Linked DNA regions of Homo sapiens. The protein of the gene in region 1 purifies or fractionates together with the protein of each later gene. This does not show direct contact. Each region holds a gene or a part of one and is shown in the gene's direction. Other genes may lie near its edges. The genes, in order: TGDS, MTF2 and POTEE.

Region 1 (3,754 bases):
CGAATTCTAAATCCCAAGAAGAGGCTTCAGTTGGCCTAGAGTCAGCCAGATTTCATTCTGTGGCCTGCCTGGGTCAACTTGGGGAGATCATAAAGGACAGTGGGGGGAGGAGTCTGGTCAGAAAAAAACTGTACGTATCGACTGCAATATATTTTGGTCTTCATTCCATGTTGGTATATTCTTTTTAAAGGCTATATAGCAGTTTACTGCATTTTAAAAGTTAGAAGACATTATACACATTTAGATTATTTCCAGTGTTTCATTATTGCAAGCAATACAGCAATGAACAATTATCTATATTATACATCATGGAATTTGAGGGGGTCATAGAATATGAACATTTGAAATTTTCATATGTTTTACCACTTTGCCTTGTAAAAAGGTTGTGGTATGATTCTTCCACATATACACCTGTACTGGATGTTTCCATTCGTTTTCAGCTTTGCCAAACATTATGGTGGGGAAAAAAAGATATTTATCTATTCGACAATATTTAATGGTCATTTATTCTGTGCCAAGTCTCTAAGGACATGCGATTACAGCAGAAAACAAAACAAAGCCCCTGACCTCATGGAACACTAAACAGAGGGCAGTGACATCAATGTAAATGTTGAGTGCTAGGAAGAAAAATAAAGAAGGATAAGATGATTCGGCAGGGTTGGGCAGAGCTCGCTATTTTAATTGTGGTGGTCAATAGGATGCCATTCAAGCTGAAAACGGAAGTAAGGGTAAAAACTAGGCAGACATCTGGGGAAAGACAATCAAGGTCCCGGGGAAGTAGCATGCCTGGCACATTGAATGAAGAGCAAGGAGGGTGGGGAGGCTGGGGCGGAGTGAGCAAAGGAGAGAATAGAATAAGACATCAGCGTAGGACCTAGGGAATATCTTTATCATGATTGCAAGCCTTCTGCGCTGTCTGTAATAATAATATTATTATTTTTTGAGACGGAGTTTTGCTGTTGTTGCCCAGGCTGGAGTGCGATGGTGCGGTCTCGGCTCACTGCAACCTCTGCCTTCCGGGTTCAAGCAATTCTCCTGCCTCGGCCTCCCAAGTAGCTGGGATTACAGGCGCCCGCCACCACGCCCGGCTAATTTTTGTATTTTTAGTAGAGACAGGGTTTCACCATGTTGGCCAAGCTGGTCTCGAATCCTGACCTCAGGTGATCCGCCCACCTCGGCCTCCCAAAGTCCTGGGATTACAGGCGTAAGCCACGGCGCCCGGCCTGAAATAATATTAACAACAGCAAAAGATCATTTTGCAGGCCAGGCACGGTGCTCACGCCTGTAATCCCAGGACCTTGGGAGGCTGAGGCGGGAGGTTGGCTAGATCCCAGGAGTTCGAGACCAGCCTGGACAACAGGGCGAAACCCATCTCTACCAAAAATTAGGCGGGCGTGGTGGCGCACGACTGTATTCCTAGCTACTCAGGAGGCTGAGGTGGGAGGATTGCTTGAGCCCCATTGGTCGACGCTGCAGTGAGCCGTGATCGCACCACTGCACTCCAGCCTGGGTAACAGAGGGAGACCCTGTCCCCGCCCCACTAAAAAAAAAAATCATTTTTAAATTGCAACCTCCCATCTCCATCTGCAACAACTCCCCGTTCTCAGCTCAACTGATAGGTAACCTCTAGAGATGGCTGTAGTACAAGAATGAAAAAAGGTACTCATTCATAAATCTGATCCATAGTGGTGGCATTTCCGGGAAAAACGTTCCATACCCCTACCATCCGGGCGACCCCAATTGCACCTGGCGGACCAGGCAAGGGCGGAAAGGAGCAGCGCCTGCGCGTGGTGAGCGCGGCCCCGCCCAGCCCGCTAGTGGGCGGGCAGAAACTGGCCACAGAGCAGTCTCCGGAAGCTGCCTCTGGCTGCTCTGTTAACGTGTCCCGCGAGCGAGGCGCGTCGCAAAAGGTCGCGGCGGAACTTCCCTGCGCTTTTCAGACCATACTCTTTACGGTACTAGGCACTGCTGAGCTGGGAGATGTCGGCGGCGTGTTGGGAGGAACCGTGGGGTCTTCCCGGCGGCTTTGCGAAGCGGGTCCTGGTGACCGGCGGTGCTGGTTTCATGTAGGTAATGGCGCCGCTAGCCAAGCAGTGGCTCCCCAGAAACCCCTACCTTTTCCCGCAGCTCTGCTTGCCCTAGGTAATTTGGGTCCAGCTTTGAGGGGTCCTTATTCTGATATGGGGAGGGTCCTAATGCACGACCTGGACCAGCTTTTCTCTCTCTGGCCTGCAAAGAAGTGGTTCCTTTGAAACTGACTTCTTTAAAACGCCTCTTCCAAAGCTGCGTTACTCTCCGCCCTTCTGTGGCCGGAGGTGCTCACCATGTCACTCCTTGAGTGCGTGCAAGTTACCCTAAGCTGCTCACCGACTGCTTCCCACCTCCAGCCTAGAGCACCCACACCCCACGATGGGCCCTGTACATATAGGCACCCCCAAAACGATTTAAGGACTATAATAGGACATCTATGTAATCAGCAAACTTTTACAAATCCACTGTTGACACCCTTTTCTTCCTCAGACCCACATTCGAGCAGCAAGTCCTCTCTACTTCCAAAGTATATCCTTACGGCGACCACTTCTCACCAGTTTCCCGTTTCCACCCTAGCCCATGTTTACTGTCATCTTTTGCCTCGACTGCTGCTGTAGCCTCTTGGTTGGCCATAACTGCGTCCACTCATGTTCCTTTAAAGCCTGTTGCTCACATACAAGTCAGTGTTTCTTAAGTCAATCAGATCATGGTAGAAGCAGGATTTTACTTCAGTGGTTCCTGCCACACTTAAGAATAAAGCCCAAACTCTACCATATCTAGAAAACTCAAGTGCCCAAGCCCTACTTTTGCAACCTGATCTGCTTTTCTGTACCTGCCATGCTTCCCCTCTTAGTTCTTGGAACACACCAAGATACACACTTCTGTCTTGAGGCCTTTGCACTTGCTTCCCCTTTCCTTAGGCTGTTTGCACCACTCAATTCTGGTTTTTATTCAGATAGCACCTCAGAGAGTTCTTACCTGACCACCATATCTAAAATAGCCCCTCTCCCAACTAGCACACTTAACCTCTACCTGAAATTATATTGCGGATTTGTGTCTGCTTGTTTATTGCTTGTATCCCCACTCTAAAATGCAAACTCGGTAAGGACAGAGACTACTGTTCATTCAGCACCTGGAAGAATGCCTGGCCCATTCTATATAAGTCTTTAGTAATTGTGGAATGGATGAATGCAAGAGTAATAAACAGGAAACTCTCCTATCCTCCCCTCAAGGAACTCAGTGGCTAGTGGAAGAAGTGGGAATGTGAGGATTCCTGTTTATGGCCATTTGCACATTAAATCACCCCTTCTAATCCGACAAGTCATTTGGGGGAGAGCATCAGGCTGGCAAGTTTCACTTAATGAGAAAGAGGACTATGGACATGAAAGGGTGATACTTGTGTGAGAGTGCGGGTCCAGGAAGGGTGCGACTTAGAAAGTGCTGTGAAAGGAATGCCGAATACAAACTTCAAGTTCATAATTTGGTCAAGGGCTCCCCTCTCCTGGGAGCCCAACATTTTAAGTATACATGGTAAATCTGGTAGATCATTTCACTGAGATATGCCTGTGATTCCCCTTTAGGGTCCTCTGAAGCCCAGGACCCACTGTGGATATCCAACTCAGAATGGTTTCAGCTGTTATTAGCCTGGGAATCCTGGGTTTAGTCTAGAAGCCTCCTGAGGATTCTGGTTTAACATTACCAAAATCTTATACCAAGAAATAGC
Region 2 (3,754 bases), on another chromosome or scaffold:
TCAAACATAATACAAAGTGAGCAGAATAGAATAGTGAGCTTTTATGTAACCATTCTTTTTTTTTTTTTTTTCTGTAAAAAGAGACAAGGTCTTGCTCTGTCACCCAGGCTGGAGTGAAGTGGTGCTATCATAACTTGCTGCTGCCTCAGACTCTTGGGCGGAAGTGATCCTCCTGCCTTAGCCTGCCGAGTAGTTAGGACTACAGGTGCACACCACCACACCTGGCTAATTTTTAAATTTTTAATTTTTTTTGTGGAGACGGGATCTTACTGTGTTGCCCAGGCTGGTCATGAACTTTTGGCCTCAAGCAGTCCTCCTGCTGTGGCCTCCTAAAGTGTTGGGATTGAGCCACTGTGCCCAGCCCATTGTTTTTATTATTTTTTAAAGGTTTATTTTTAGGTGAAGTTTACATATATTGAAATGCACAAATCTTAACTGTACAGTTGTTAATAAGTTTTATTGAGATATAATTTATATACTATAGTTATATGTACATAATTCACATGCATTCTTTGAAGGTGTACAGTTCAGTGATTTTTTTTAGTATACTCACAAAGTTGTGCAGCCATCACCATACCTAATTTCAGAATATTTTCATCATCCCAAAAAGAAAAGAAAATCTTAATCCATTAACAGTCAGTCCCCTTCACCTATCCACTATCCTCTGGCAACCACTAATCTACCTTCTGTGTCTATAAATTTGCCTGTTCTGGACATTTCATGTAAATGGAGTAGTACAATATGTGGCCTTTTATGTCTGGCTTCCTTCACTTAGCATGACTATATTAGTCCATTCTTGTACTGCTATGAAGAAATAACTGAGACTGGGTAATTTATAAAGAAAATAATTTTGATCGGCTTACGGTTCCACAGGCCATACAGGAAGCATGGCTGGGGAGGCCTCAGGAAACTTCCTGTTGAAGTGGCCCCCTTGAAGTGGCCACAGCAGGAGGATTAGAGATGGGGGCGGCTCCACATGCTTTTAAACAACCAGAGAACTCAGTATCATGAGAACAGCAGGGGGGAAAATCTGCCTGCATGATCTAGTCATTTCCCACCAGGGGCCTCCTCCAATGTTGGGGGTTACAATTTGACGGAATATTTGGGCGGGCACACAAAATCCAAACTATATCGTTAATGTTTTCATGGAACAGCCATGTTGTAGCATTTATAGTCACTTCATATCTTTTTAGGGTCAAATAATATTTCATTATATGAATATACCTTTTTTTGTTTGTCTAGTCATCAGTTGATGGACATTTGGGTTGTTCCCACATTTTGACTATTGTAAGTAATGCTGCAGTGATCATTCATGTATAGGGTTTGGGTGAACATGTTTTCATTTCTCTTGGGTACACATATCTAGGAGTGAAATTACTGGGTCAGATGATAACTCGGATTAGTGTTTTGAGGAACTGCCAAACTGTTTTTCAAAGAGGCTGTGCCATTCTACAAGCTCACTAGCGATTATCTGGTGAGTGATTATCTCACCAGTTTATCCACATCCTCACTGATACTTATTATTGTCTATCTTTTGATTATAACCATCCTAGGGTTTGAATTGGTATTTCATTGTGGTTTTGATTTGCATTTCACTTATGGCTAATTATATTGAGGATCTTTCCACATACTTGTTGGCCATTTGTATACCTTCTTTGGAGAACTGTCTATTTAAGTCTTTTGCTCATTTAAAAAATGGGACTGTCTTTTTATTCTTGGATACAAGCCTGTTATCAGATATGATTTGCAGACTTTTCTTCCCCCATCCTGTGCATTATCTTTTCACTTTCCTGATGGTGTCCTTTTAAGCACAAATATTCTTAATTTTGATAAAGTTCAATTTATTCCTTTTTTTTTTGCTTATGCTTTTGATGCCGTATCTAAAGAGCTTTATAGTTTTAGCTTTTACATTTAGGTCCGTCATCTATTTTGAGTCAATTTTTTATATATGGTGTGAGGTAGGGGTCCAACTTCAGTGTTTTGCATGTGGATACCAGTTTTCTAGTACCATTTGTTAAAAAAAACTAATTCTTTCCTCATTGACTTGTGTTTGACAATCTTGTCAAAAATAAATTAACCATACATGTAAAAGTTTGTTCTTGGATCCCAGTTTTATTCCATTGATTTATGTGTCTGTACTTAGGACTGTACCATAATATTTTAATTACCATTACTTCATAGTAAGTTTTGAAATTGGGACGTTGTGAGTCCTCAAGTTTTTTTCTTTTTAAAAAACAATTTGGCTATTCTGGGTTCCTTTCACTTTTCCATGTAAATTTTAGGATCAATCTGTGAGTCTGTGCAAAAAAACGCAGCTGGGATTTTGGTAGGTATTGTATTGAATCTATAGATTGATTTGGGAAGACTTGCCATTTTAATATTATTAACATCTATGAACATGGGATGCCTTTCCAGTTATATAGATCTTATTTAATTTCTTTCTCTGATATTATGTAGTTTTCATTGTACAATTCTCGAACTTCTTCTGTTAAATTTATTCCTGAGCCAGGCACGGTGGTCCCAGCTACTCAGGAGGCTGAGGCAGGAGGATTGGGTAGGAGGATTGCTTGAGCTTAGGAGTTTGAGACTTCAGTGAACTATGAGAGCTATGATGTGCCACTGCACTCCAGCCTGGGTGACAGAGCAAGGCCCTGTCTTTAAAAATGTAAGTATTAAAAGAAATACTTTGAACATATAGAAACAAAGTAAACCATTTTCCTTGATAAGATAAAGCATCACTTTCTCCTATCCTCATTTAATTTAAAGTTCTTATCAGTACTTGAGCCCCTCTGTTGATTCTCAGTTCTGAGGATTTTTTGATAGTAGTTAAAGAATTCTCCCATAATCAGGGAGATAGAAGGGTAGTTTGTGAAGTGCTTATCTAGTACTAAAAATACTTTTAAAATTTCAAAGCATTGTCATTATAGTATAGTTATGGATCCTAATTACATTACCTTTTTTCTTTTCTTTCTTTCTTTTTTTTTTTTTGAAACGGAGTCCAGGCTGGAGTGCAGTGGCACCATCTCGGCTCAGTGCAAGCTCCGCCTCCCAGGTTCATGTCATTCTCCTGCCTCAGCCTCATGAATAGCTGGGACTACAGATGCCCACCACCATGCCCGGCTAATTTTTTTGTATTTTTTAGTAGAGACGGGGTTTCACCATGTTGGCCAGGATGGTCTCGATCTCCTGACCTCATGATGCGCCCTTCGTGGCTTCCCAAAGTGCTGGGATTACAGGCGTGAGCCACTGCACCCGGCCTTTTTTTTTTTTTTTTTTTCTTCATTAAAAGAGACAGGGTCTCTCTGTTGCCCAGGCTGGAGTGCAGTGGCGTGATCATAGCTCACTGTACCCTCAAACTCCCGGGCTCAAGTGATCCTTCCACCTCAGCCTCCTGAGTAGCTAGGACTACAAGTGCATGCCACCACACCTGGCTAATTTTTAAAATATTCTGTAGAAACGGGGTCTTGGTATGTTGCCCATGCTATTCTTGAACTCCTGGCCTCAAACAATCCTCCTGCCTTGGCCTCCTTAGGTGCTGGGATTACAGGCATGCCACTTGGGCCCAGCCAGGGCCAACTTTTAGCATCCATAGGTTCTATGGGTCACACTGCAGAACTTGAGTATCTGTGGATTTTGGTATCCTCAGGAGGTTCTGTGACCAGTGCCTTGTGGATACCAAGGGACAACTAAATAGCATATACATAAACCAGTAACACAGTCGTTTGTTATCAGTATTATGTATTGTACATAATGA
Region 3 (3,754 bases), on another chromosome or scaffold:
TAAACAGGGAGAAAACTTAGAAGCATGCAAGGGGCTTCCTGTAACATTTCATTGGCTGGGTCATACCACATGCTCATTCCCAAACCAGGCACTGGGAAGGTAAATATCTGATTAGCTTAGAATAAACATTTCTTTCTGAGGCTGAGGAGGGGGATTGGGATATTAAATATCCCAATAGACTTATGTTTTTTCTGCCAGAAAGAATGAGGAATGGCTATTGATAGGGAGCCAACAATGTGTGCTGGAGGGGGCTCATTGGAGAAATTTGAGCAGGGGAGCCACAAGATTAAATTTGAGTATTAAGGCATTCTGGTTATGGTGTAAAATGGGTTAGCAAGCTTTTTCTTTAAAGGACCAGGTGGGAAATATTTTGGACTATGTGGTCTCTGTCATATCTACTTAACCGTGCTGTTGTCTGCTGTTGTAGTGTGAAAGCCACCATGATTATATGTAAGCAAACAGGCATGACTGAGCTCCTATAAAACTTTATTTACAAAACCATAATGCAGATTGGATTTGGCCTGTGGCCTATAGTTTCCTGGGATTGATGGGAGATAATCATGCAAAGAAACCAGGAGACAAAGGAAGCTTTTGCAGTAGTCAGCTATAGTTTCCATGTCACACATCCTTGGAGTAGCATCAATGTATTACAAGGTTTTCACCCGTCCATGGTGAAATAAATAACGTTAGAAATCTCAGTTACTCATTTTACTATGTTGGCCTTCGTTATGCCCTTTTCACTTGTTTTGCTTAATTTTTTTTCCTGTAAGAAATAACATTAATAGTTGGCAGTTTTCTTTTAAATAGAAGTCATTTTGTAAATGTTTGTGTTCCCAGTGGCAGTGGGAATATAAAACAGAGGCAGAAGAGAGGTATAGTCAATATGATTTAGTGATAATTGAATGAGAAAGGCTTGGGGGACAGAGAGAAATCTCAGATGATGTACAGGTTTCCAGATTGCACACTAGTATTTAACCTGGACATGAGGAAGGAGTAGGAAATTTTCTGGTGAATACAGAAGAGCAAAGAGCAGCAGGTCAGCAGGAATGACTAATGTTTTTCGATGCATGTTTAATGGAATATTCGTGTAGGGTATTTTGAGTAGGTAATTGGATAATCAGCATTTATAACTCGCATCCTACTAGTTTGACTCTAAGTAATAAGACTTGTCAAAGATCCAAGAATCTGAAAGTCAGTAATAAATGTCCATGTGCATCATCGTCCGTGACAGAAAGTCAGCATCCACAGAACACAGAATTGGGACAGATGAACTTAATAGATAAAGATGAATATCGGAGTTGTTCCTCTTAGGGAATGATACTCTCCATGACCTGTGTGAGTCACAGCTGCCAGAAAAGAAAGAGCAAGGAGCGTATGAAGGCAGCACAGCAAATTCGGTCCTAGAGTGCCCTGCTTGGCTTCATGTCATAGTTCTGACTTCTAAATAATCATTTTCTGCAAAATGTGCTTTGTGTTTTTCCCTCTTGCCGCCTGCAGCCAATCAGAATCTTTTTAGCAGGACATAATGAAAAGAAGTAAGAGAAAGAGTGTTTTTTTGTAATGGGATAGTATTTAACGTAAACTTGAGAGTGAGTACCAGGATTATACTTAGAATTTATGGACTGGATGGGAAGACTGGATAGAAATCTAAAGATTGCTGACTCAAACACAATGTGGTTTCTTTGATTTATTTTCACAGCTCTGAATTCACGACTGTTAATTGTATTCATATGCATTATAACTTTACAAAGCATCTTCCGAAACCAAATATTTACTGATTTATTATAATTTGTATGACTTTATTATAGAACTGACTTTCCAAGTGTTCATGAGAATTGTTTAGAATTTGCTACATTGTATCATCTCAGCTGTGTCCACATGAGCTATCTGTCACCTTGTCTTAATGAATAATTGTTCACTAGGAATATTGGTTTTGGCATTGAAATGATCTATATCTAAATGCAGATAGGACCCGGGACCACTTTTGAACATTAATGTTCAAGCATCTTAAAATTACACATAATGCTTTCATAATCTGACTTCTGCCCCACTCTCCATCTTTAGCCCTTTTCCCTGTGTGCCCTGTCTCTGGCATTACTGAACTGCTGGCAGTGCCCTACTCACTCATCCTTCTATTGTAGGCAAATACTTTCACTCTTTCAGGAGTCGCTCCCGCTCTTGCTGCTGCGTGGCATGCCGTCACCCTTTCCTGCCCTCTACACCTTTTAATCTGGCTAGTCTCAATATTTAAGTCTCTGCTTGGGCATGTGTTCTAGAAAAGCCATCTCTGACATGCTTTATTTTAATTCTTTTTAAACCCTAATGCCTAGCATGTATTTAGCAGGACTCAATAAAATATTTCTGAGTAAAACAAAGACTGTTTTTACAAAGATGATGTGCAAGACTCTCCCCTGCAGTCTTGGAGCAGAGGGGACAGACGTGGAGGAATAATGTACAGTTTAGGTGGTCAAGATGCAGTAGAAAAATCAGTAAAGTACTAAGGCAGCCTCAAGGAAGGAGGTACCTGTTTATTTGGGGAAAGACATGCAGAATCAAGGAAAACTTCATATAGCATTGTTTCAAAAGATGAAAATAAGGCCAGGTGTGGTGGCTCACACCTGTAATCCCAGCACTTTCAGAGGGAATCACGAGGTCAGGAGATCGAGACCATCCTGTCCAATGGTGAAACCCCATCTCTACTAAAAATACAAAAATCAGCTGGGTGTGGTGGTGCTTGCCTGTAATCACAGTTACTCAGGAGACTGAAGCAGGAGAATCACTTGAACCAGGGTCGCGGAGGTTGCAGTGAGCTGATCACACCACTGCATTCCAGCCTGGTGACAGAGGAAGACTCTAGCTCATAAAAAAAAAAAAAGAAAAAAGAAAAAAAGAAAATAAATTTGTCAGAATAGTGGAGAGAAACATTTTAGATATTAGGAAGATGTTGTACACTAATAAAGGTGTCAGCAGTGATTTTGGAAATCATTTATAAGGTACTATTAGGAAGTGGAGAACAGTACACTGTGTCACCTTATATGTTTCTACTGTATTTTAAAGCTGTGTTTCTGGTGGTTTTGTTCATGGATGTTGGGTGGATGAATTTGTGAGGGAATTTTTGACATGTTTGTTTGTCTTCAATCTGGTGACATCTGCTATCTCCCCAAGTGGGTTTTTGAAGTTTTTGAGAATTATTTCTTAAATGACAATTTCACAAAAGATGAAACACTCAATTTATGAAATAAAATGAAATGTCTCAAATCTGTTTTTAAAAGGCAATAGTTTTTAACTGTTTTAAGTGGTTGATTTTAACTGAATGTATGGATTTTTCAACAGAACAAGACTTAAAGCTGACATCAGAGGAAGAGTCACAAAGGCTTAAAGGCAGTGAAAATGGCCAGCCAGAGGCATGGAAACTTTTAAATTTAAACTTTTGTTTAATGTTGTGTTTTTTTTGCCTTAATAATATTAGATAGTCCAAATGAAATTACCTTTCAGACTAGGCTTTGAGAATCAGTAGATTGTTTTTTTAAGAATCTTTTGGCCAGGCAAGGTGGCTCACGCCTGTAATCCCAGCACTTTGAGAGGCTGAGGCAGGTGGATCACGAGGTCTGGAGATCGAGACCATCCTGGCTAACATGGTGAAACCCCGTCTCTAGTAAAAATACAAAAACTTAGCTGGGCGTGGTGGTGGGTGCCTGTAGTCCCAGCTACTCGGGAGGCTGAGGCAGGAGAATGGCATGAACCCAGGAGAGGG

Evidence for each region.
Region 2: the proteins of TGDS (region 1) and MTF2 purify together in Homo sapiens (affinity purification with mass spectrometry; 2 studies listed by BioGRID and IntAct, with this or other methods). This does not show direct contact.
Region 3: the proteins of TGDS (region 1) and POTEE purify together in Homo sapiens (affinity purification with mass spectrometry; 2 studies listed by BioGRID and IntAct, with this or other methods). This does not show direct contact.

The regions. Positions count from the first base shown.
Region 1 is NC_000013.11:94,594,363-94,598,116, reverse strand, and holds the start of TGDS (dTDP-D-glucose 4,6-dehydratase), read left to right. Parts: upstream 1-1,964; 5' UTR 1,965-1,980; coding exon 1,981-2,066; exon of another isoform or gene 2,067-2,142; intron 2,143-3,754.
Region 2 is NC_000001.11:93,082,219-93,085,972, forward strand, and holds part of MTF2 (metal-response element-binding transcription factor 2), read left to right. Parts: intron 1-3,754. UniProt on the Homo sapiens protein: Polycomb group (PcG) protein that specifically binds histone H3 trimethylated at 'Lys-36' (H3K36me3) and recruits the PRC2 complex, thus enhancing PRC2 H3K27me3 methylation activity.
Region 3 is NC_000002.12:131,247,445-131,251,198, forward strand, and holds part of POTEE (POTE ankyrin domain family member E), read left to right. Parts: intron 1-3,333; coding exon 3,334-3,404; intron 3,405-3,754.